Regions from separate parts of the Homo sapiens genome. Here region 1 is linked to region 2. The links come from fine-mapping of genetic effects on gene expression. Tissue or cell type: transverse colon. Region 2 holds a variant in brackets; the other region holds the start of a gene. All regions are shown on one strand. Distances are between the middles of the regions.

What was found. PIP is the estimated chance that this variant, and not a neighbour inherited with it, causes the effect.
Region 1: BTBD2 starts here. The variant in region 2 is fine-mapped to the expression of BTBD2 in transverse colon (GTEx, PIP 0.99). The same link has a PIP of 0.9 or more in tibial nerve.

Annotation. Positions count from the first base shown.
Region 1 is chr19:2,009,437-2,018,526 of GRCh38, reverse strand. It overlaps BTBD2 (BTB domain containing 2), which reads left to right and starts at 2,813. Exons shown (of 9, transcript NM_017797.4): 1 at 2,813-3,230. The coding sequence starts at 2,824. It overlaps LOC107985278 (a long non-coding RNA gene), which reads left to right. Exons shown (of 4, transcript XR_001753845.2): 3 at 1,227-1,344; 4 at 1,433-2,182. RefSeq lists silencers at 3,007-3,156, 3,167-3,216, 6,032-6,223.
Region 2 is chr19:1,943,438-1,953,898 of GRCh38, reverse strand. All of the region lies in intron 1 of CSNK1G2 (casein kinase 1 gamma 2), which reads right to left. It overlaps CSNK1G2-AS1 (CSNK1G2 antisense RNA 1), which reads left to right. Exons shown (of 3, transcript NR_033400.1): 1 at 1-56; 2 at 393-513; 3 at 888-1,372. Among named protein-coding and RNA genes, the nearest start is that of CSNK1G2-AS1, 5.9 kb to the left of the region's middle. RefSeq lists an enhancer at 6,180-6,900. The variant G/A (reference allele first, on the strand shown) is at 5,422.

The DNA.
Region 1 (9,090 bases), 65 kb before region 2:
TAAAAATACAAAAAAAAAAAAAAAATTAGCCGGGCATGGTGGCAGGCGCCTGTAGTCCCAGCTACTCGGGGGGCTGAGGCAGGAGAATGGCATGAACCTGGAAGGCAGAGCTTACAGTGAGCCGAGATTGCACCACTGCACTCTGGCCTGGGTGGCAGAACGAGACTCCATCTCAAAAAAAAAAAAAAAAAAAAAAAAAAAAAAAATCGTGAACATCTCAGCATTCCGTAAAGTTCACCCTTTCCTCAGACAACCTACCATTTTGTTAATTTCTGTCACCATGGCAGGTATGCCTGTTCTGCACCTTCATCTAGAAGGGACTGCACAGATGTCCTCTTTAGGATTTGGCTGGAAAGATGTCACTTTGCAAATGTATGAGATGAGAGATAAGAAAGTTGACATTTAGAGGCCGGCTGTGATGGCTCCCGCCTGTAATCCCAGCACTTGGGGAGGCCAAGGCAGGCGGATCACCTGAGGTCGGGAGTTCGAGACCAGCCTGACCAACATGGAGAAACCCCGTCTCTACTAAAAATACAAAATTAGCCGGGCGTGGTGGTGCATGTAATCCCAGCTACTCAGGAGGCTGAGGCAGGAGAATCGCTTGAATCCGGGAGGCGGAGGTTGTGGTGAGCTGAGATCGTGCCACTGCACTCCAGCCTGGGCGACAGAGCAAGACTGTCTCAAAAAAAAAAAAAAAAAAAAAAAAAAATATATATATATATATATATATGTATATACATACACACACACACATATAAAATTAGCCAGGCATGGTGGCAGGCGCCTGTAGTTCCAGCTACTCGGGAGGCTGAGGCAGGAGAATGGCGTGAATCTGGGAGGCGGAGCTTACAGTGAGCCAAGATCGCGCCACTGCACTCCAGCCTGGGCGACAGAACGAGACTGTCTCAAAAACAAAACAAACAAACAAAAAAAAATTAGCCTTAGCCAGGCGTGGTGGCGGGTACCTGTAACCCCAGCTACTCAGGAGGCTGAGGCGGGAGAATTGCTTGAACCAGGAGGCTGAGATTGCAGTGAGCCAAGATCGCCATCACTGCACCCCAGCCTGGGCAATAGAGGGAGACTCTAAAAAGAAAAAAGAAAAAAGAAAAAAAAATTGTAACTACCTCAACCACCCACTCTGGAGAACTGAAAATAGCATTATCACTTGGGTTTTTTTAATACCCTATTTTCTTTTTCTTCTTTGTTTTTTTTTTTTTTCGAGACAGGATCTTGCTCTGTTGCCCAGGCTGGAGGGCAGTGGTGGAGTCATAGCTCATCAAAAGCTCAACCTTCCAGGCTCAAGTGATGCTTCCGTCTCAGCCTTCTGAGTAGCTGGGACAACAGGTGCGTACCACCACGCCTAGTTTTTTTTTTGTTTTGTTTTGTTTGTTTGTTTGTTTGTTTGAGACGGAGTTTTGTTCTTGTTGTTCAGGCTGGAGTGCAATGGCGCGGTCTCGGCTCACTGCAACCTCCGCCTCCCAGGTTCAAGTGATTCTCCTGCCTCAGCCTCCCGAGTAGCTGGGATTACAGGCACCCGCCACCAAGCCTGGCTAATTTTCGTATTTTTAGTAGAGATGGGGTTTCACCATGATGGGGTTTCACCAGGATGGTCTCGATCTCCCGACCTGGTGATCCGCCCGCCTCGGCCTCCCAAAGTGCTGGGATTACAGACGTGAGCCACCGCGCCTGGCTAATTTTTGTATTTTTTGTAGAGACAGGGTTTTGCCATGTTGCCCAGGCTGGTCTCCAACTCTTGACCTTAGGTGATGCACCCCCCGCCTTGGCCTCCTGAAGTGCTGGGATTACAGGCGTGAGCCACTGCGCCCGACCTGGTTCCTCAATCTTTGTGGCATTTGTCTACCTTGACATTATGTATGTAGTAAGCGTTTTGGGGGAGTCCCAGCTCCGTCCACACTGACCACCCCCCACACCTGGCCTGGAGAGGGTGCTGGGCGTCTGCTGAGTGTCAGTGCACGTGGCCTGCATCCTGCTCGCTCATCCGCAGCTTCCCGGCCTCAGGCTATGTCTCTGTACAGCGGAGCCTGCGCCACGGAGCAGGCCCGCCACCTGGGTCCGGGGTCTGGGGTCTGGAGTTTGCGCTTGGTCTTTGGGTTGGGGGTTCCGGGTCTGAGGTATGGGATCTGGAATCCGGAGTCTGAAGTCTGGGGTTCAGAGTCTGGGATCTAGGATTCAAGGTCTGAGGCCTGGGATCCCGGACTGAGGTCTGTGCTCCAGGGTTTAGGATTCCCGGTCTGGAGTCTGGGGCCTGGTGCCTGGACCCCAAATTCTGGACCTCGGTCTGGAGTCTGGGCTTCAGGTCAGGATGCTTAGGGAGTGGAGCAAGAGGTCTTCCACCAGCTCCTCCCCTCTACAGGCCCCTCCTACTCTTCCCTCTCCTCCCCGTCCCCTCCCCTGCAACAGCCTCCCCCATTCACCTCCCTTCTCCCCTCCCTCCTCCCCTCCCACCTCCCCTCCTTTCCCCTCCCTCTCCTCCCCTCCCTCCTTCCCCCTCCTTTCCCCTCCCTCTCCTCCCCTCCCTCCTTCCCCCTCCTTTCCCCTCCCTCTCCTCCCCTCCCTCCTTCCCCCTCCTTTCCCCTCCCTCTCCTCCCCTCCCTCCTTCCCCCTCCTTTCCCCTCCCTCTCCTCCCCTCCCTCCTTCCCGCTTCCCCTCCCCTCCCTCCTCCCCTCCTTTCCCCTCCCTCCTCTTTTCCCCTCCCCTCCCTCCTCCCCCTCCTCCCCCTACTCTCCTCCTTTCCCCTCCCTCCTTCCCTCCTCCCCTCCCTCCTTCCCTCCTCCCCTCCCCCGCCCACGCCGCAGCCACAAAATGGCGGCGGGTGGGAGCGGCGGGCGTGCGTCGTGCCCGCCGGGGGTCGGGGTCGGCCCGGGCACGGGGGGCAGTCCCGGGCCCAGCGCCAACGCCGCCGCCACCCCGGCCCCCGGCAACGCGGCCGCCGCCGCCGCCGCCGCCGCCGCCGCCGCCGCCGCCCCTGGGCCGACGCCGCCCGCCCCGCCGGGCCCCGGGACAGACGCGCAGGCCGCGGGCGCGGAGCGGGCGGAGGAGGCGGCGGGCCCGGGGGCGGCGGCGCTGCAGCGCGAGGCCGCGTACAACTGGCAGGCCAGCAAGCCCACCGTGCAGGAGCGCTTCGCCTTCCTCTTCAACAACGAGGTGCTGTGCGACGTGCACTTCCTGGTGGGCAAGGGGCTCAGCTCGCAGCGCATCCCCGCGCACAGGTGGGCGCCCCGACCCCGCCAGCCCTGGCCCCGACCCACCCAGCCTGCTGCCCGGGCCCTGCACCTGAGGCCCTGCACCCCTCTGTCCCCGAGACCCCCGCACCCCTCCATCCCCGAGCCCTGCACCCCTCTGTCCCCGGGACCCCTGCACCCCTGCATCCTCAGGCTCCGAACCCAACTCGGCCTGCACCCCGGGGCCTGCACCTGAGGCCCTGCACCCCTCTGTCCCTGGGACCCCTGCACCCCTCCGGTCCTGAAACCGACCCGGCCTGCACCCCGGGGCCTGCACCCTTCCATCCCTAGACTCCACCCAGTTCCCTGGGCTCTGCACCCCTCTGTCCCTGCCTCTGCACCTCTCTGTCCCCAGACCCCACCAGGCCTGCACTCTGGGCCTCTGCACCCCTCCATCCCCAGGCCCCCCTGGATCCTCCACCTCTGGCTTGCGCCCCCAGCCTGTTCCCCGGGATCCCAGGCCCTGTACCCCTGGGACCCCTGCTCTCCTCCGTCCCTGGACCCACCCAGCCTGCACTCCGGTACCCTCCGTTCCTGGGACCCTCCAACTCGGCCTGCACTTGGAGCCCCTGGGCCCCTCCATCCTCAAACCCCACCCAGCCCGCACCCCAGAACCCTGAATACCCCATCCTCAGGGCCCTCCACCCCCCGCCTGCACCCTAGGACCCTCCATTCTTCCATCCCCAGGACGCTCCATCCCTGGACCTCACCCCTCCCTGCACCCCAGGTCCCCAGACACCTCTGCCCCCAGATCCCTGGGCCCCTCCACCTCCGGCTGGAACCCCTGCCTACACCCCAGGCCCCTCCATCCCTGGACCCCACCTGGCCTGCATCCCTGGGTCCCCTCCATGCCCTGGCCCTGCACCCCCACCCACCACCCCTGGGACTCCTGTGACCCTCCAACCCTGGGACGTGTACCCCTATCTGCTCCTCCATTCCCAGGACCCCAACCCACTGTTTCTAGGACCCATGACCCCACATGCCACACCCCTCCATCCCTATACCCGGGGATCCTCAGGACCCCTCCATCCCCAGGCCCTGCACCCTTGCCTGCCGCCCCTCTCCCCCTGGGACCCCTACTGGTGACCCCTCCGTCCCTGTACCCAGGGACTCTCCAGGACCCCTCCTTCCCCAGGTCCTTCACCCCTGCCCACTGCCCTTCCACTCTCTACTCCCGGGGCCCCCTGGGACCCCACTACACTCAAGTGTGTCACCCCTGCATCCCAGGATGGAGAGACTTCTCCGCTCTCACCTGAGACCCCCCGTCCCCAGTCCTCACCACCTCAGTCCGTAACCCCCAACCTATGACTCCTGAACTCCAGGACCCCTCCCTTCAGGGGTCGTGCTATTTCCTCCACCCCCACCCATGACCACAAGACCCCTCCCTCTTCCCCCACCATCCAGGGACCCTGCCACTCCCACCCGCACCCCTGTGCGCCAAGACCCCTAGGCCTTGCTCCCTGCGTCCTCCCTGCTGCCTCCAGACCCAGTGACCCCCACCGGAGACCCCCAGGCTCAGCACATGATCTGGATCAGAGACCTTCAAACCATGCTGCTCCCCTCCAGGGATACCCCCTGCCCGCCCTGCAGTCCAGATCATAGACTACCATCCACAGCCCCTCCAGCCCCGGACCCCCACCTCAGCCAGAGACCCCTGGGCCCTGCCACCTCCCACTTCAGTGACCACCCACCTCCAGCTCCGCCACTGCCAGGCTCTGGACCCTGGACTCTGCAGAAGGTTGTCTCCCCTGGGCCCTGCTACCCCCTGCACCCCATCCTATGATCCCCTGCCACCAGGCCACCACCCTAGACCCCTGCCCAGACTCCCATCTCCGGGCCCTTCCAACCCAGAGACCCCCAGCTCCGGGGTCCCTCCCTCCCCAGCCCCCAGCCCTCCTTTCTGGGAAAGAAGTGGGTTTGGCCCAGTATCTGTCTTTGCCAGTGTGCGGGGTACCGGCCCCAGGCCCCAGGTTCCCTCCACTCCCCGGTCCCTCTTACCCTGCCCCTCATTGGTCGGGGGCAGGGGCTGGGTTTTCTTGCTGCGGGCACTGGAGGGGGAGGGTCCTGCCCTCCCTTCTGACCTTCGGGTGCTTTTGTTAACGTGTTCTGGCTTCTTCCTGGGTGTTTATGGGCAGCTGGGTCTCCTTTCGTGGGGTCCTGCCCTGGGCGGTACTTAGCAGAGGTTCCTGCCCCTGGAGGGTTCCGGGGCCTCCTACGGCTTGTGCCGTCCGTGTCGCCGTCCCTGTCTCTGTCGTCCTTAGCTGCTGGGCCTCTCCTAGCTTGGAGTGAGGGGCGGTGGGTTTGCTCCCTCCACCTGGGTGGTCTTTGTGCTCTTTGGGGAGGGGGTAGGTTGGATGCAGCTGGAACTCACCCAGCAGCAGGTGCAGCTGGAGAATCCCAGGCTTTCTGTTTGAGGGGGGAGGTGGGGCGCCCCGGGCACCGGCTGACCTTGGGACATGTATGCGATTGCACTTGAGGGACCGCTGGCTCGGTTGCAAAGTGGGGAAGATGGAGGCAGGACAAGGACCCCTTGGAGAAAAGTAGGTGAGGGGTCTGCCCCCGGGGGGCTCAGGAGAGGGCAATGAGGCCCAGCGGGAGATAGCAGCAAGGTAAGGTGGGCGGGCCTGGGACAGCGGACCCTCGACATGCGGGGTTAGGGGCGTGGACCCCCACTCAGCTCAAATCCAAGTACAACTTTTGACTCCCACGAACTTAACTAGGAATGGCTTCTCGCTGACCGGAGGCCTTGTGAGGACACTTGGTCAATGCACACCAGCCTCCTGTTCTCACAATAACAGGCTGGAGAACAGAAAATACATTCAGAAAAGTCTAAGGGGCCGGGTGCGGGGGCGCACGCCTGGAATCCCAGCACTTTGGGAGGCCGAGGCGGGCAGATCACGAGGTCGGGAGATCGAGACCAGCCTGGTCAACACGGTGAAACCCTGTCTCTACAAAAATACAAAAATTAGCCGGGCGTGGTGGCGCACACCTGTAATCCCAGCTACTCAGGAGGCTGAGGCAGGAGAATCTCGTGAACCCAGGAGGTGGAGGTTGCAGGGAACCGAGATTGCGCCATTGCACTCCAGCCCAGGCGACACAGTGACACACCATCTCAAAAAAAATAAAGGACAGGCTGGGCGCGGTGGCTCACGCCTGTAATCCCAGCACTTTGGGAGGCCGAGGCGGGCGAATCATGAGGTCAGGAGTTTGAGACCATCCTGGCCAACGTGGTGAAACACCGTCTCTACTAAAAATACAAAAAATTAGCCGGGTGTGGTGGTGCACAACTGTAGTCCCAGCTACTTGGGAGGCTGAGGCAGGAGAATCACTTGAACCCGGGAGGCGGAGGTTGCAGTGAGCCGAGGTTGCGCTACTGCACTCCAGCCTGGGCGACAGAGCAAGACTCTGTCTCAAAAAAAAAAGGAAAAAAAATAAAAGGAGAAATCCTGTTTGCTGTTCACACAGTGGAGGTGGCCACGATGAAGGCCTGTGTCCTTGTGTTCATATTGAGGGCTGAGGAGCAGGAGCAGGAGGGTGGGTCTGTCTCCGGGGTGGCAGAGGTGGAAGGGGAGGCAGGAGAGGCCGGCACCGTTGGGGCAGCCTTTATTGAAAAAATTCACATATGAGTGGACCTGTGCAGTTGAAGCCTGCCTTGTTGAAAGGTCATCTGTGTTTCCTTAGCATTTCAGGAGGGTTGAAAATGGAGAGGGGGCACTGACCTGGTCCAGAACGACCCCCTGAGCAAGTGATGTTGATGGAGAGTGCAGTGCCCCAGGCTCAGGGATGGAAGGCCCAGAGCCCAGAGGGGCTGGGCAGGTGGGAGCCATGGCAAGGCCGGAGCAGGAGGAGTGAGGGAGGCCCTGTGGCCCAGTGTGACCAGATCCGCATTGAGGGTGGAACGCGCCGTGGATGGGCCCAGGAGCGAGGCTGGGGAGTAGCAGCTGCAGACTCCAGGCAGGAGACAGCAGCGGGCTCGGTGGGGACGGCAGAAATGAGGGGTAGAGGATGCAGGTCCTCTTTGGAGGAAGCGAGTTCCTGTGGCCAGGAGAGGAGGCAGCTTGGCAGGTGAGGGCGTGGGGGGCTGTGGTGGGGGTCCCCAGACTTCTGGCTGGAGCATCACAAGCCAGGACAGGCTCAGGAGGGACAAGTACTGGCTTGGATGTGTTGGCGGGACCTGGGGCTGAGAGGTCCGCAGAGCAGTGTGTCCCAAGTGCTCTGTGCCTCAGTTTCCATGATTGAAACAAGGTCACTCAGACACATCTGTCCTGGGGCTGTGGGAACAAACGGACCCGATGGGTTGCTGACAGCCACAGGCCACACAGCAGAGAGAAAGAAAACAGCAGCTGAGGCCGGGCGCAGTGGCTCACGCCTATCATCCCAGCACTTCGGGAGGCCGAGATGGGCAGACATCTGAGGTCAGGGGTTTGAGACCAGCCTGGCCATCGTGGCAAAACCCCGTCTCTACTAAAAATACACAAATAAGCTGGGCGCGGTGGCACGCACCTGTAATCCCAGCTACTCAGAGTCTGAGGCAGGAGGATGGCTTGAATCCGGAAGGCAGAAATTGCAGTGAGCCAAGATTGCGCCACTGCACTCCAGCCTGGGTGACAGGGCGAGACTCCGTCTCAAAAAAAAAAAAAAGGTGGGGGGATGTCGGGACGAACTGGGGGTGCTGGGATAAAGTCTGGAGTTCACCGATGAGCAGAGAGGGGCCGGGCCTTGCCAGCTGTGAGGAGAGCAAGTGGCCTGGGCTTGGGCCTGGTCCCTGGCGGGGGTGCAGGGTGAGCTGAGACATGGCAGAGAGGAGGCTGGGAGCAGGCCTTGGTGGTGGCCCCAGTGTCTGGACCGTCGCGCAGGGGTCGGCGTTTGTGCTGGGGAGGAGGCCAGGGGTTGCACGCGGCTTCTGGGCTGTTCCCCGGTCCTGGATGGGCACCCGTCCATCTCAGCGCGCTGGAGCCTGGCACACAGTAGGCACGCAGTGATTGTGCATTGAATGATCTGTGGGAATTAAACATCTGATTCTCTCATGGGGCTTGAAGGGAGAACTGAAGATCTCCAGGGTTGCACTTTTGTAGATGTGCACATTGGCTGGTCCCATGAAGTTAGTATCTAAAATACCTTTTTCTTTTTTTTGAGACGGAGTCTCGCTCTGTTGCCCAGGCTGGAGTCCAGTGGCGCGATCTCCGCTCACTGCAAGCTCCGCCTCCCAGGTTCATGCCATTCTCCTGCCTCAGCCTCCCGAGTAGCTGGGACTACAGGCACCCGCCACCACACTTGGCTAATTGTATTTTTTAGTAGAGACGGGGTTTCACCATGTTAGCCGGGCTAGTCTCAAACTCCCGACCTCAGGTGATCCGCCCACCTCGGCCTCCCAAAGTGCTGGGATTACAGGCGTGAGCCACCGCACCTGGCCTCCCCTCCTTTTTTGTTTTTTTGAGACAGAATCTTGCTCTATTGCCCAGGCTGGGGTACAGTGGCGTGATCTCCGCATGCTGCAGCCTTCAGCTCCCTGGCTCAAGCAATTCTCCTGTCTCAGCCTTCTGAGTAGCTGGGATTACAGGTGTGCGCCACCACGCCCAGCTAATTTTTGTATTTTTAGTAGAGACAGTATTTCCGTCATGTTGCCCAGGGTGATGGTGAACTCCTGAGCTCAGGTGATCCACCCACCTCGGCCTCCCAAAGTGCTGGGATTCCAGGTGTGAGCCACCGCGCCCAGCCTAACGTATCTTTATTCACTCTATCATGGAACTGTCAGCATTGTAGCGAGGTCTAGAAGTAGAACAATCTGGGTGGGTGTGGTGGCTCACGCCTGTAATCCCAGCACTTTGGGAGGCCGAGTCAGGCGGAT
Region 2 (10,461 bases):
CTCTGAGAACGCAGCTGAGCCGTCACAGGTCGCCATCAGCAAAGGCAAGAGTCCAGGTAAAGAACACAGGAGGGCCACAGGTGATCGCGGTACAGCGGCCAGGACCGGACCCTGATGCGGGGGGAGGGGGCAAGGCTGCACAATGGCAGCTGGGACCAGACCCTGTTGGGGGGATGTGGGGGACGGCGAGGCTGTGCAGGGACCCCGTCCCACAGGTCAGCCTCGCCCTGGTGATGGCACAGACCACAGGTGAGGGCCACGGGCAGAGCTGACCAGGGAAAAGCTGGCACTCACCCAGCACCGGACACATAAGGCAAACACCACCGGCAGCCTTGGCGGAGGGCACTGTCCCTGCAACTAGTCCACATAGGGGCAATTTTCCCAAAATTCAGATTATGCAAACGGAGGCAAGGCTGCCATGGACTCCAGAGCCTCAGACGCCATCAACAAAAGCAAAGTGGACACATCTGCATCAAATCCATCACAAAGACGGCCTTCCAGACTCCGGGGGAAGTGAGAACACCCCCACCCAGGCCCCCATGGCGCACAGGCCCCCACAGCAACCCTGCGCCACCTCAGCAGCCTCAGCTCTGCTTCCTGCTCCGTGGCCCGGGGGCAGAGCTGACCTGGTCTTGCCAGGGGGGCAGGGGTCCCCGGTCCCAAGTGGTGCCACAGACAGCGGGGGGAACGTGCAGGCAGAGTCAGGCACCCCACCAGGAAAGAAAGCTCCCACGGCAGGTCCCGGGGGCGAGTGGGACCCGGGGTGGCTCCCATCGGAATCCTGCTACATCTGAGAGGACACGGGTCCTTCCAGAAGCGTAACCATGAACGGCCGTGGAAAACCTGGGTGGGCTGCGTTTCTACATTTCCTTTGTTTTTTTTTTCAGACGGAGTCTCGCTCTGCCACCCAGACTGGAGTGCCTTTTCCCCTCATCGTGTGGGAGCCGCCGGGCGACATCCCGCCCCGGTTTCCCTCCACTCGAAGGCAGTCACCTCGGTTGCCAGCTCCTGCCTCTGTGATGATCCCCACGAGGGCTGCAGAGTGAAGGGCACAGCAGGGTTCGGCCTAACTCCCCGGGGAGCCCTAGGCGAGAGGGCTTGGTCCTGGGGAGCTGCCCAGGTCTTCTATATCCCCTGGCCTCCATCCAGTCCCGCACGACTCAGCTCCTGGCCCTGTGCACCGGGCGACGCCTGCTAGGCGCATGACCCTCAGAGTCAGGCCTGTACTCACCTCAGCATCTATCAAGGGCCTTCAAGGATCGGGTTTTTTTAATCATCGTCAAATATATCGTTACTAAAAAGATACGTACACTTTGGGAGGCCGAGGTGGGAAGATCACTTGAGGTCAGGAGTTTGAGACCATCCTGGACAACATGGTGTAACCCCGGTCTCTTCTAAAAATACAAAAATTATCCGGGCATGGTGGCGGACGCCTGTAATCCCAGCTACTCGGGAGGCTGAGGCAGGAGAATCACTTGAACCCGGGAAGTGGAGGCTGCAGTAAGCCAAGATGGCACCACTGCACTCCAGCCTGAGCGACAGAGCAAGACTCTGTCTCAAGAAAAAAAAAAAAAGTTGAGCACGTGGAAGCATCCCGCCCTCCGCCACTCGGGCATCATCAGTGCTCACAGGCCGCAGATGACACACGCTATCGGCGCACTAGCTTCTGCCCCCTGGGCCCTCGTCCAGCCCTGCACCCACTGCCCACTGAGGGGCCAAGGTGTGCTTGCTGTCCTGCAGTGACCATCACGACCCCTTTCACACAGAAGGGTTGGGCTATCCCCGAAAAAGACATGCCAAGTCCTAGCCCCCAGTAAACAGGAACACGGCCTTATGTGGAAATGAGGATGGCCCCAATCTCACCACTTCTCAGCTTAAGGTCCTGTTTCATGATGTTGAGTCAGAAAACAGCAGAGAATGGCCGGGCCCGGTGGCTCTCGCCTGTAATCCCAGCACTTTGGAAGGCCGAGGCGGGTGGATCACGAGGTCAGGAGATCGAGACCATCTTCGCTAACACGGTGAAACCCCGTCTCTACTAAAAATACAAAAAATTAGCCAGCTGTGGTGGCGGGCGCCTGTGGTCCCAGCTGCTCGGGAGGCTGAGGCAAGAGAATGGTGTGAACCCGGGAGGCGGAGCGTGCAGTGAACGGAGATCACACCACTGCACTCCAGCCTGGGCGACACAGTGAGACTCTGTCTCCAAAAAAAAACAGCAGAGAAGAGGAAGGTGGGGAGGGGTGGACTCTCACCGCTTCCTCCCGCCCAGCCTGCACATCCTGAGGGCACCCAAGCATCCCCCATCCTGGCCCATCGGGAGGCTGCACCCCCCAACTGGGACCCCTGTCCGTCATGCACACCACAGCTGGTGCTGCCTCCTCAGGGAGCCCCAGAGGACACAGGCAGCTGGGCCAGCCTCAGGATCTGGCAGGGTCTGAATGGGAAGAAATCAAACGGTCCCAGCAGGCCCCCATCTTTGATTTTTTTTATTTTTTTTTTGAGACGGAGTCTCACTCTGTCGCCCAGGCTGGAGTGCAGTGGTGCGATCTCGGCTCACTGCAAGCTCCGCCTCCCGGGTTCACGCCATTCTCCTGCCTCAGCCTCCCGAGTAGCTGGGACTACAGGCGCCCGCCACCACGCCCGGCTAATTTTTTGTATTTTTTTTAGTAGAGACAGGGTATTTTAGTAGAGCCAGGATGGTCTCAATCTCCTGACCTCGTGATCTGCCCGTCTCGGCCTCCCAAAGTGCTGGGATTACAGGCGTGAGCCACCGTGCCTGGCCATCTTTGATTTTTATAAACCAGCAAACGGTAGAAAGTGTTGCCTCCCCAGGCACACGGCGTCTCCTCTCACCTCCCCTCATTTCAACAGCAGGGGACAGACACAGACCACCCGCCTGGCCAGCTCTCTGACCCCCATGGTCTCCCCTGAAAACTGGGCACGGGGATCACCCAGGGATCTAGGGGGGCACCAAGGCGAATAAACGCCCAGCTCACCGAAAACTTCCCAACACGCTCCGCCATGATACCCCATAACCCCCACCTGGAGGGTCTCCAGCAAAACTCCCGCAGCCCCTCCCTCCTGGATGCCCCAGAGCAGGTGACACCTCCCTTCCAGCGGCCAGGTCCCCACCTGACACTGGCTGGAGGGAGGCAGGGGGACGGGTGCTGGTGGCCTCTGGGGCACGAGAAGGTGCCTTGGTGTTCGGTGGGCGGCAGCAGATTTAGGCCGGGCCAGCCCAGGAAGGCCCGTCCGTCCCAACATGGAAGGAGGCCTTGGCTGTTTCTAAGTGCACCCCCTCCTGTCTCCCAGAGGCCTCAGACAATTTTCTCTGGAAAGCGGACGGTGCTCATCTCCTGGAATCTGAGGTTTGTGAAAGAACATCTTCTTCAGATGTTGCTGTAATGTTCAAGTTCTCCAACACTGCTGAGTTCTCTTTTGCTACTTAAAAATAAACATTGATGGCCAGGCGCGGTGGCTCACGCCTGTAATCCCAGCACTTTGGGAGGCCGAGGAGGGCGGATCACGAGGTCTGGAGATCAAGACCATCCTGGCAAACACAGTGAAACCCCGTCTCTACTAAAAATACAAACAATTAGCTGGGTGTGGTGGCGGGTGCCTGTAGTCCCAGCTACTCGGGAGGCTGAGGCAGGAGAATGGTGTGAACCCGGGAGGCAGAGCTTGCAGTGAGCAGAGCTCACGCCACCACACTCCAGCCTGGGGGACAGAGCGAGACTCCGTCTCATAAATAAATATATAAATAAATATATAAATAAATAAAATAAATAAAAATAAACGTTGATTTTTGTGGCCTCGAAAGGCCAGGGCCACCTCGATGATCCTGTGGGGCTGGGGCCTACCGGTCACTCTGTGGACACTGGATGCCTCCGGCCTCTGAACTCGCTGTGGCGAAGGTCACGGGCAGCACATCCATCTGTCTGTCCCACTGGCCGTGCTCGTCACAGGGTGCAGGATCTGGCCCTGTGCCTGACAAGGCAGTGGGGACACCGGGCACATGCAGGACCCCTGGCTTTCTAGACGGCATGGGGATCAGGACAGCAGGGTCCCTGATGCCCTGCAGGCCAGAGAAGCATCGGGCCGAAGGACAGGAGAAACCAAGTCACCGGAAGAGGGGAGTGGTCGTCGCTGTGCAGAGATCCAGTCCCCAAAACCCGGCAGGGGACCCAAACAGTGCAGGTATGGATGGCCGTCTGCGGCTCCTCAAATGGTCCAACCGGGAGTGGCCCTGTGACCAGCGGTTCCACCGCTAGAAGTCCACCTGACAGAAGAATCACGCAGCCACACGGGAACCGGACACGGGTGCTCGCAGCAGCCACACGCGGATGCCATGCAAACATCTATCACAGAAATAAACACGTGGCCACCCACACGCCGGAACACGACTCAGCCACGAACAGGAGCGAGACTCGGACGCGGGCCATGGCGCGGATGCACCGAGGGTGTCACACTCAGTGAGAGACGCCAAACACACCAGGCCTCATCCCGTGTGATTCCACCCCTAGGAGGTCCCTGGAGCCCTCAGAGTCACAGAGCCAGAAAGTAGGATGGGGGTGCCAGGGGCTGGAGAGGGCACGGGAGTGAACGTTTCACGAAGACAGCGTCTCAATTTGGGAAGGTGGGAAGGTTCTGGAAAGGATGGTGTGGAAGGCTGGCTGCTGATGGGGCCAGGGCTCCCTTTGCAGGTGATGAGAACACTCTGGAATTACAGGTGGTGGCTGCACTCACAGAGGAGCCTTGACCACGGCAGGTTTGAACTGACAGGTCCACTCTGACGTGGATTTTTTCAATAAAGGTTGCCCTGAGGGCGCCAGCCTCTCCTGGCTCCTTCCCGCTCTGCCACCCGAGACAGCGAGACCCACCCTCCCTTCCTCAGCCCTCAACGTGAACACGACGAGGACAGAGGCTTCCATGAGCATTACTTCCACTGCGTGAAGAGCAAACAGGGTTTCTCTTCCTTCTGCTTTTCTCCACATGTTCTGGTCTCCAGCTTCCCTCACTGTGAGAACGCAGCACCTAACACAACACACGAGGTATGTGTGCGCGGACCACGTGTCCTCCCGAGGCCTCTGGTCACCAGCAGGCTGTCGGCAGCGGCATCTGGAGGACTCGAAAGCTATACGAGGGTATTTTGCTACATGAGGGGCTGCTGCCCTAAACCCCACCCTGCTCAAGGGTCAGCTGTACAAAAACCACTTGCGTGCACACGTTGCCGAATTTTACCAAACGTGGATTATGTTCCCAGCAAAAAAAAGTGGCTCATGCTCTAAGGACCACACCGAAATAAGGCTGGTAAGAGAACAGTGAGCTGGGTCAGTGTGACGGGATCTTTTTTTTTTTTGCGTTTTTTTTTTTTTTTTTTGAGACGGAGTCTCACTCTGTCGCCCACATGGAGTGCAATGGCGC[G/A]GTCTCAGCTCACTGTAAGCTTCGCCTCCCGGGTTCATGCCATTCTCCTCCCTCAGCCTCCCGAGTAGCTGGGAGTACAGGCGCCTGCCACCGCGCCCGGCTAATTTTTTGTCTTTTTAGTAGAGACGGGGTTTCACTGTGTTAGCCAGGATGGTCTCGATCTCCTGACCTCGTGATCCACCCGCCTCGGCCTCCCAAAGTGCTGGGATTACAGGCGTGAGCCACCACGCCCGGCCGGGATCGTTAATTTTAAGAAACGCTGTGAGCCCGGCTCTGGCCAGCACCCTGGGGATGAGAGGGGGAGGGACAGGGCCCGGGGCAGCGGCCTTCCAGAATGGCTCCCTCCGGTGCAGGATCAAGTCTGAGCCCAGGGCGGGGCCGCCCCCCGAAGCCACACCTCCTGCTCACAGGGCCAGGGTTTAACCAGCTCATCCCGGGTCCCGGCCCACGAAGCTTTCAGAGGAACCGGGGCTGTGCGCCCACAGGAAGGAGAGGCCAGTGCCCGGGCACGAGGACGAGCTGACTCATGGGGGCCCCAGGACGTCACCACACCCATTGCCCAGGGCCGCGGGCGAGGTCCAAGGGGCAGCGGAGGTCCCCGACAACTCATGGGGCAGCCACGGTCCACCCAGGGCTCAGGCAGCGAGCCCCACACAGCGCCCCTCTCCACGGCGTACAGGCCTGACCAGCGTGATGGCACAGCACGCACACACCTGTGCAGACGCCAGCGCAAACGCACACCACCCCTGCGGTCGCAAGCCCTGTCCCAGCCCACCTGCAGGCTCCAGGGCTCTGGCTGGCCTGCACGTGGCCAGGGCCCAGCTGGATCCCCCTCGGCGCACCCACCCTCAGAGGAACTCAAAGGCACACCCAGCAAGTCAGAGGCAGACACGGGCCAGTCCGTGTCCTCACGCTGGTCCCGTGCGCTGCCCTCAGGCTCCCGTCCTGGGAACTGTCCCCAGGCAGAGCCTGGGCATCAGCGCCAGCTGCCCTGCCCCAGGACCACTGGAGCAGAAGCCCGAGGGGCACAACTGCCGCGGACAGGATGAGCCCTCGCACGCCTGCCATCTTTCCTGGGGACAGAGGTCAGATGGGAAGGGGCAGAGGTCACCGCAGATTACATGAGCATCACCTGGGAAACAAGGTCCCTAAGGAGGGCGGGTCCCACCTGCAACAGGGCCTGAAGCACCACGGCCAAGGCGAGAGGACTGGCCATCAGGCCTCACAGGCAGGGACTCTGTCCACGAATCCAGACCAGGACTTGGGGTGCCTCACTCTGGAGGGTGGAAGTTTCCAGATAATTGAGGGATTACCTTTAAGCACAACTTTTTTCAAGCCTCCAAAGGCAATTACGCATCAACGAAACACCGCTGGTGACAATAAAAAAACCTCTAAGATTTTCTCTGCCTTTTAAATAGCGATAGGGCCGGGCACGGTGGCTCACGCCTGTAATCCCAGCTATGAGGGAGGCTGAAGCAGGTGGATCACCTGAGGTCAGGAGTTCAAGACCAGCTTGGCCAACATGGACAACAGAGCGAGACTCTGTCTCTAAATAAATAAATGAATAGGCCGGGCACAGTGGCTCATGCCTGTAATCCCAGCACTTTGAGAGGCCGAGGCGGGCAGATCACAAGGTCAGGAGATGGAGACCATCCTGGCTAACACAGTGAAACCCCGTCTGTACTAAAAATACAAAAATTAGCCAGGCGTGATGGCATGTACCTGTAGTCCCAGCTGCTGGAGAGGCTGAGGCAGGAGAATGGCGTGAACCCGGGAGGCGGAGCTTGCAGTGAGCCAAGATTGCGCCACTGCACTCTAGCCTGGGCAACAGAGCGAGACTCCATCTCAAAGAAAATAATAATAATAATAATAAATAAATAAATAAATAGCCGGGCGCGGTGGCTCACGCCTGTAATCCCAGCACTTTGGGAGGCCGAGGCGGGCAGATCACGAGGTCAGGAGATCGAGACCATCCTGGCTAACACGGTGAAACCCCGTCTCTACTAAAAGTACAAAAAACTAGCCAGGCGTGGTGGCGGTCGCCTGTAGTCCCAGCTACTCGGGAAGCTGAGGCAGGAGAATGGCGTGAACCCAAGAGGCGGAGCTTGCAGTGAGCTGAGATCGGGCCACTGCACTCCAGCCTGGGCAACAGTGCAAGACTCCATCTTAAAAAAAATAAATAAATAAAAAATAAATAAATAAATAAATAAACGAATAAATAGTGATGGGCCAGCCCTGGCCCGTGACCCCCGAGCCTCTTGCAGTCTTTCTTCCCGCTGCCCTCACCTGCGCCCCCTCCTCTGCGCGGCCTGAGACACAGACGTGAGGCAGCTAGCTCCCCCTGCAGGTATGGAATGGGAGTGACCTCCCCGGGATAGGCCACGGGATGCACTTCCCACCTCTCCCGGGAACATACGCGTGGCCTCCGCTCCTAGATGGAATCTGCCGTAACAAGAGTCATACCCCACGGGTCAGGCCGGCCAGACCAGAGTCTCTTGCCCCACTCCACTGGGCTGCCTGCCCCACTTGGCACCCACAGCTTCGGTCCTCACCCCATGGCCTCTCCAGGGAGGGACCCACTGCTCTACCCCAGCGTGCCCCAGAAGTTCAGCAGATGCGCATCAAGGGAGAACCAGCTTTTTTTTTTTTTTTTTTTGAGACGGAGTCTCGCTCTGTTGCCCAGGCTGGAGTGCAGTGGCGCGATCCTGGCTCACTAAAACCTCCACCTCCCGGGTTCAAGTGATTCTCCTGCCTCAGCCTCTCGAGTAGCTGGGATTATGGGCGCACGCCACCACGCCCGGCTAATTTTTGTATTTTTAGTGGAGATGGGGTTTTGCCATGTTGGCCAGACTAGTCTTGAACTCCTGACCTCAGGTGATCCGCCCACCTCGGCCTCCCAAAGTGCTGGGATGACAGGTGGGAGCCCCCGCGCCCGGCCAGAGCTGGCTGTTTTCAACATGATGTCACGCGAAACTGTCTCGGGCCTCACGGTGCAGGGAGGCCGCTGGGCCACCCAGGAGCACGCCTGAGGGTGACAGGAGGGATCCCTGGGCAGGGCTGGCAGGGGGCTGCCCCGATTCCCTGTGCAGGGGACACGTTGGGGGCTCTGAGCAAGGGGGAGATGATCCCCACACCTCAGACGCGTGCCCCGAACAGTCAGCCGCACCGGGGGCCAGGGCCGCCTGAGTGCTGCCGGGGGAGCCTGGGGCCAGCCCGGGGGTCTGAGAAGCGGCTCCCCTGTGGGCCCAGGACACAGCTCACGCTGCACCTGCAGAGGGGCCCTGGCAACCTTGCGGGCGCACAGGCTGGTGCAGGGCCCCAAGCAGCGGTGGTGGCCAGAGACTCTGGGCAGGGCGAGAAGGGGCCGCGGAGCCTGGAGGACTCAGAACCCAGCAGGGCTTCAGGACAGTGCCTGGGGGACAGCATGGGCAATGCTCCTGGGCACAGCTAGCTCACGCTGGCCACCCGGGGCATGTCCTGCTTTGTCCCATGCCCTTGCTGGTGACAAGTTGATGTGGGTGGTGAGCGGGGCAGAAAAAGGGCAGCAAGGGTGGGATGCTAGAGGTTCCTGCCCCACTACAGGAGGACCCGGCAAAGGGAGGAGGCTCACTGGGCCCCGCCCGCCAGACGGGTGCTTGCCAGGAGCCAGGCAGGCCCCACCCCTCACTCAATCCCTGCCCGCTGCAGGGCTGCCCGCAGTGCATTGAATACACCGTTCTGGTGGTCCCAGACCCTCACTTTGAGCCCTCGCTGAGGTAGCACAAAGGGGTACCCCCCCCCACCCAGCCAGGCCAGTCAAGCTCCCGGACAGACCCACCCAGCAGACGGCTGCACCCACGTGCCAGTCACAGGGCGGCACAGCCCTCTGGACAGAGCCAGCAGAGAGGATGGGGAAGGCGGTGAGGCCCGTCCCCTGGCCGCAGGGCCACCACCCCTCGCTGTCACTGCTCCCACTGGCACGGCGGGTGACCAGAGAAGCACAGGTGTGGGAGTCAGCCCTCGGGAAACACCACCTTCTCCTCTACCCAAGCAGGCCAGGTAGGCCTCGACTTCCTCATCTGTAAAATGGGCGCTCCACCCACTTCCCAGGAAGCCCCACAGCACGGGCCCCACGAGAACTCCAGAATGAGGAAGAAGCAGACGCGGAGCCTCCCGACCTAGGGAGCCTCCAGACTGCAGGCCTCACTCAGACGGCCTTGCACAGAGGCCGCCAACCAACAGGTTCTCTCGTGTGGCTGCCGGCGGAGCATTTGCAGATCTGCAGATCCGCGGGATGGGGGAGGCGGACCCGGCACGCCTGACACCAGAGCTCGACCCAACACGCGCACGGCCACCGAGCCCTAGCTGGACACAGGACTTGAGGCTGACCTGAGGACGAAGCCCACAGCTGCCCGCCACCACCGCAACCCTAACCAGGACTCGGGCCAGGCCTCCTTCACATGGGCCCTGTGTCCCCTCTGGGTTCAGAGAAAGTCAGCCAGCCCCACATGCTGGCCTGCCCACTGCCACCCGAGGCCCGCAGCCCCTGCCAGGCTGTGCCCGGCACTCGGCCCCAACAGCACCCACAGCGCTGCCTCCATCCACCACCCGCCCTCCGCCAGGCCTCGGTCAAGGCCTTGACGGACCATGAGCCCCTGGGGGCCTGGGGCAGCTCGGTGGGGGGTGCAGAAAGGAGGCAACATCAAACGCTCAACAGGATCCCCCTCTCCAGATGCCCCAGGGCAAGCAACTCCGGCTGTCCCTAAGCTCAGCTTCCGTCCGTCCCAGTGGCTCTGCGGACGCATCTGCTGGGGCGCTAGAGTCTGCCACTCGGGCGCGCGGTAACCCCCACCAGTTCCAAAAGACACAGTGCCCCCCCTCCCAACCGTGCCTGGCACACCAACAGGACTACCCCAATCCCCAAATTAATGGCTGGCATACTGGCTTCCCCTAAGCTTGGGATGAGCAACAGGAACTTTCAATTAAAAAAACCCTCGCCTACTTCCTTTGTAGCCCAGAGTAATTACTGTATTATTAAAAAGGAGGAGAAGAAAAGAAGAA